Linked DNA regions of Homo sapiens: region 2 is linked to region 1. The links come from fine-mapping of genetic effects on gene expression. Tissue or cell type: follicular helper T cells. Region 1 holds a variant in brackets; the other region holds the start of a gene. All regions are shown on one strand. Distances are between the middles of the regions.

What was found. PIP is the estimated chance that this variant, and not a neighbour inherited with it, causes the effect.
Region 2: KIF3B starts here. The variant in region 1 is fine-mapped to the expression of KIF3B in follicular helper T cells (Schmiedel 2018, PIP 0.95).

The regions. Positions count from the first base shown.
Region 1 is chr20:33,224,059-33,226,738 of GRCh38, reverse strand. BPIFA3 (BPI fold containing family A member 3) reads right to left here. Exons shown (of 7, transcript NM_178466.5): 3 at 2,277-2,384; 4 at 1,492-1,641; 5 at 249-333. Among named protein-coding and RNA genes, the nearest start is that of BPIFA3, 8.0 kb to the right of the region's middle. RefSeq lists an enhancer at 1,784-2,680. The variant C/T (reference allele first, on the strand shown) is at 1,622.
Region 2 is chr20:32,276,431-32,279,110 of GRCh38, reverse strand. KIF3B (kinesin family member 3B) reads right to left here and starts at 1,460. Exons shown (of 9, transcript NM_004798.4): 1 at 1,346-1,460. It overlaps LOC124904885 (a long non-coding RNA gene), which reads left to right and starts at 1,568. Exons shown (of 2, transcript XR_007067561.1): 1 at 1,568-1,807. RefSeq lists silencers at 1,085-1,264, 1,285-1,444 and enhancers at 1,098-1,608, 1,655-1,704.

The DNA.
Region 1 (2,680 bases):
TCCTCATCATATAAGATAGAGACTATGGTGGATCCCATGCTACAGGTGGGAACACTGAGGCTCAGGGAGGCAAAGTCTCTTGCTCAAGGATAGGCTGGCAAAACTCATGGCCAAACTGAAATTTTAAATTGAGATTTTTCAAGCTCTAAAATCCAATGTTTGAAATCCTTTGCTAAATTGCCAGTGGATATATGCCCTAACCCTCGGACTCAAGGATGCTCAAGATGCAAAGTTTTTTCTAAACTTACCTGACTTTCTACCATGTGTGGGAGAACTTTTTGCAGATTCTCTTTGAGGTTGTAGAGAAACTGATTCATCTTTGGTGGGATAGCCCTAGAAAGAAAGGTAGAGGCACAGAACAGAACAGAGCAATCCAGGCAATATTAAAGCCAGGAGGTATGTGTTGAGTATACTTTCCACAGTCTTTTAGTCCTCACTCAGCCCCATGCCAGAAGTATCATTGTCAGTGATCATCAAAGGGGTAGCTCAGACCTTGCCCAAGGTCACACAGCTAATAAGTGCTGGTTATATTAGAAACATGGCAATAGAGCACCAGATTCCAGAGTCTTTCCCTTACACCGTCCTCCCATGAATGTCTGGTACAATCTAGGTACTCAATGAATATCTGATGAATAAATGAACAGACATCCACTGAGGTCTTCATTGCTTTCAGCATTCCGGAATTACAGAGATAAATCAGGCACAAGTCTTGCCTTCAAGGGACTTACAGTCAGTTGAAATTGAAAGACTTGGTCAGCCAGTCTATGGAGCTTTATTAAAGCTGTATTTTGTGTCTTGTTCACCACTGTATCCCTAGCATCAGGTGTGGTGCTGGCATACAGTAGGTTTTTGGGAAATATATGAATGAATGAGTGATAAGGAGGAGCTTCATAGAAGATGGGACGGGCATTCCAGGCAAGAAGATCAGCATGTGCAAAGGCACAGTGGTGTGAAAATGTACGGTGTGTGGTGGAGGACAAAGGGCTGAAAAGTTGGCAGGGGAGAGGACAAGCAGGGCCTTGAGTGAAATTTGGGAGTTGCTGTTTACCCAGAGGGCACTGGGAACCACTGGAGGCTTTGGAGCAGGGGCTTGGGCATGGCCAGATTTCTGTGTTAGAAAGTTATTTCTGCTGCAGGATGAGGAATGGAGTGTAGGAGGGGAGATCCGGGCCAGGGAAAGCCAGGTGAGTTTCCTGTAGTGCTCCAGGTAGTGGAGTAGGAGATGGAGATAAAAGAGAGAAGCTGAGGGCTACTAGCAAGTCATTGATGGGAACTTGTGATGATGGGCTTGAGGAGTGAGGAGGGAGAAGAGTCTGGCTTCTGGGAGGGTGGTAGGGTCATCACGGATGGGAACATGGGAGGAGGAGCAGATCCCGGGGGAAGGATGAGATCTGCTTTGGACTAATTTAGGAGACGGTCAGGAAGTGACCCTGCAGCTGGGGCTCATCAGGAAGGAGGCCCAGCTCTGGGGAGGGGCAGCTGGGGTCTTACTCAGTGAGGATGGCCACATGGACACTGCTGGGCTCTGCATCGCATTTGCCTATCACCAGATCCCTCCGGCCAAACTCGTCTTTCTCCAGCCAGAACTCCACAACGATGCTCATATGTGCACACATCTTTA[C/T]GATGTTGTTATCGAAGGACCTGCAGATGAGAGAGGAAGAGGAGGAAGGGCAAGGGGAGGAGGTAGAGAAAGAGTAGAAATCTCCGTATTGGCAAAGACGGGCACTGTCCACCGTTAGGGCTTCCCCTGGCACTCTGAGTCCTTTCAACAAACTAGGCCCAGTTAAATCCTGAAGTCAGTGATTAAAGAGAAAACAGCTGTAGCCAGAGTGACTCTGAAAACCCCTTAAATAGGCCTTTGGAAATTCAAACGTTGAGAGTTAATCTCTGTTTCAAAAATCTTTCCCATTTAGCTGCATCCTCCCTTTCTTGGGGGCAGTGGATGTCAAAGGATAGTTTGAACAGGAGGATGGTGAGCAGGGGCGATGAGATGATTACAGCAGTTCTCCCTTTCTCTCTTTAATCAAGCCCAGTTGTTGTGAACTCTCATAGGTTTGAATGAGCAAATGACTTCCTTCCACTGACTAATGATTGTCATCATATTTCAGGTGAAGAAACCAAGGCTCAGAGAGGTGAAGTGACTTGCCCAAGGTCACACAGCAAGTGGCTTTGGAAGCCAGGATTTGAATTTAGGTTGGGATCAGAAAGATCTGAATTTCCCAGGTTCCCTGCGAGGAGGGCCAGCACCTCTCAGATTCTGCTTCTGTATGACTCACGGTCTCAATTCAAGGTCAAATTCAAGTGAGATATTTGCCGAGAACCACTCCTTATGGAATGATATCTGGATCCCACCACAGTCCAGCTGAATGTTGGTGATGTTGATGCTGCACAAGGAAAGAGCAGAGGCCCCACAAGGGTGAGGGACTTCAGAACAGGTAAGGCTTCCTGCTGAGAAACAAGGCTGTCCGACTATAAAGAGGGCCTGGCAATGGGATTTGGACTGTGATTCTTTTACAGATGCTCTGAGGGCAAGAGTCAGGTGCGGGAGCCCTGGACTGCAAGCTGCCCCAGAGTGGCCCTAACAGTGCCACACAGTTTTGATTTGTGCAGCTGGGCCCCCACTGTTCCTTGTGTGGGCCTTCCACCTTCTCTTCTTTCAATCTTCCTACCTTCCCTCTTC
Region 2 (2,680 bases), 950 kb after region 1:
TCTCTACTAAAACTACAAAAATTAGTGGACGAGGTGGTGAACATCTGTAGTCCCAGCTACTCGGGAGGCTGAGGCAGGAGAATCGCTTGAACACACGAGGCGGAGGTTGCAGTGAGCTGAGATCGCGCCACTGCACTCCAGCCTGGGCAACAGACTAAGACTCTGTCTCAAAAAAAAAAAAAAAAAAAAGGATTCTTAAGCAGGTCCTTCCCTTTACTTTTCTGAACCTCAGTTTCCTCATCGGCAAAATGAGGATGACATCACCAGGCACCTGGCAAAGTCTACATAAAGATTAAATGAAATAATATGCCTGGTAAAGTGCTTCTTAATCATATGCTTGTAAATAGTTATTACTGCTTTAAGCACTTCCCAAAGGACACAAAGATGCCTTTTTTCTTCTGGAAGGGTCAACGAAGCCCAGGTAGAAAATGAGACCATGACCCCAGCTATCTACAAGGGGTTGACCTCAAAGAGTTTCCCAGGACTACTTGTAGAAGTACCTCCCTTGCTCTGAGCAGAATGGAGAAGTAAAACCGGGGTTGGGGGTTGGCATTGCAGTAGGACTACCCATATGAGCTGGCACTCTACACACCTACACCTTACCTGTCCCAAAGTCATCTCCTCCTGGAAGTCTTGCCCTCCTACCCTGGACGCCTCATAATAGCTGGTTGAGCACTTACTATGTGCCAAGCTACTTGACATACCCAGTCTCACTGATTTCCACAGTAGTCTATTACCTCATTTCACAGATAAGGAAAAGAAGACTCAGAGAAATTAACTTGCCCAGGGCCACACAGTTACTAAGTGGAAATGCCACGTCTCTAACTCGCTCAGACTTCAAACTGCCCTCTTGGTCTCCCATCTAGGGTGCCCTAAGAATTCTCCCTCTCCCCATTTAGGGCACTTTCACATACACTTCTCATTATCTTTACCACTCTGAGCAGCAATGTTAGGACCCCATTGAATAAACAGGTCAGCTAAGGCCAGGGAGGTGAAAAGACTTGCCCAAGGTCACACAGCAAGCCCAGCACAGCGCCGAGGTTCGGACCCCAGGCTCTCGCTTCCCCGCCCTCCTCCCAAACTGGGGCCCTGACCACCGCCTCAGGGCCCCCAGGTGGGCTGCGACCCAAGGTGGCCGTGTCTGGGGGTCGGGCCGCGACCCTGCCAGGGGAAGGAGGGGCAAGGCCGTCCGGACTACCAAAGGATGCCTAGGAGGCAGGGCAGAGGATGCTCCGGCTCGCGGGACAGCAAAGCCAGGCAGAGGCGCGGGCGCAGGTCGCAGGGAAAACCCCAGGCGGCCACAGGATTAGCCCTGCTCGGTGGGCGCCCGGCCCCTCCGACTCACCTGAGGCCCGAGCCGAAAGCGGGCGGCGGCGGCGGCGGCGGCGGCGGCGGCGGCGGCGGGGGCGGCGAACCCCTGGCTCAGCCATTCCCCGCTGCCCCGGATGGGGAGAGACAGTGGCCGCTCACTTCCTTAGCAACCTGGCTCGGCGACCCACTTCCTTAGCAACCGGTGTCAATTTCAATAACTTTATTGGCACACGAGCAGAGGACAGGGAAAGCCGGCTGGAGGGGTCTGGGCGGGGCTCAGGTCGGTGCTGGTGTTTAGCGGGGGCCCAACACACCTCGGTCTCCTCACCCACCTAAGCGGGGAGAGTGGCGCACAACGTGGCCTGACTCCATCCTCTGGTATCTCGTGCCTCAGTTTCCCATCTGTAAATGGAACACACGCGATTTCAGCCGCCGTTCAACCTTTCTAAAAGCTTTCACATCCATTATCTGACTGGTGTCTCAAACTGCTACTGAGGTAACTCCCATTTAGGGTGCCCCCAGTGACTCAATACGAACACCTATAGGCACCCTTGTTGTAGCTTTCCTGTCCTTCACCCAATCCAGTCAGTCACAACCGCCCCAGGCAAGGCCAGGCCACGCTCATCTCTAGCCTGCCTGAAATATCTGGTCTGTTTCCATTCTTTTGTCCAGCTCTGTCCGAACAATCCATTTTCCATAAGGTGGCCAGAGTAATTATTTAAAACAGATCATGCGGCCAGGTGCGGTGGCTCCCGCTGTAATCCCAGCACTTTGGGAGGCTGAGGCAGGTGAATCACCTGAGGTCAGGAGTTCGAGACCAGCTTGGCCAACATGGCGAAACCCCGTCTCTAATAAAAATACAAAAAATTAGCCGGGCGTGGTGGCGCATGCCTGTAGTCCCAGCTACTCGGGAGGCTGAGGCAGGAGAATCGCTTGAACCCGGGAGGCAGGGGTTGCAGTGAGAGAGATGGCACCACTGCACTCCAGCCTGGGCGACAACAGCGAAACTCCGTCTCAGATATAAAGATTAAAATAAATAAATAAATAAATAAATAAATAAAACAGATCATGCCACTTTCTGATTAATACTCGATTTAATGGAGTCTCATTGCTCTTAGAATCAAATATGAAGTCCTTATTACTTCCTGCAAAATTCGTTAAAACTCTATTCCAACCACACTGGCCTAGAAGGGCAGGTTCCAACCCCCATGGAACTTACACCTGCTGTTCCCCACTAAATAGAAACTGCATAAGAGCAGTCTTTTATTTGTTCACTCTTGTATCCACCATGCCTGGAACCAAGCTTAGTCAATAGTAGTTGCTGAACAAATATGTTTTGCTCCTTGAATAAATGAATACCTGAGATGGT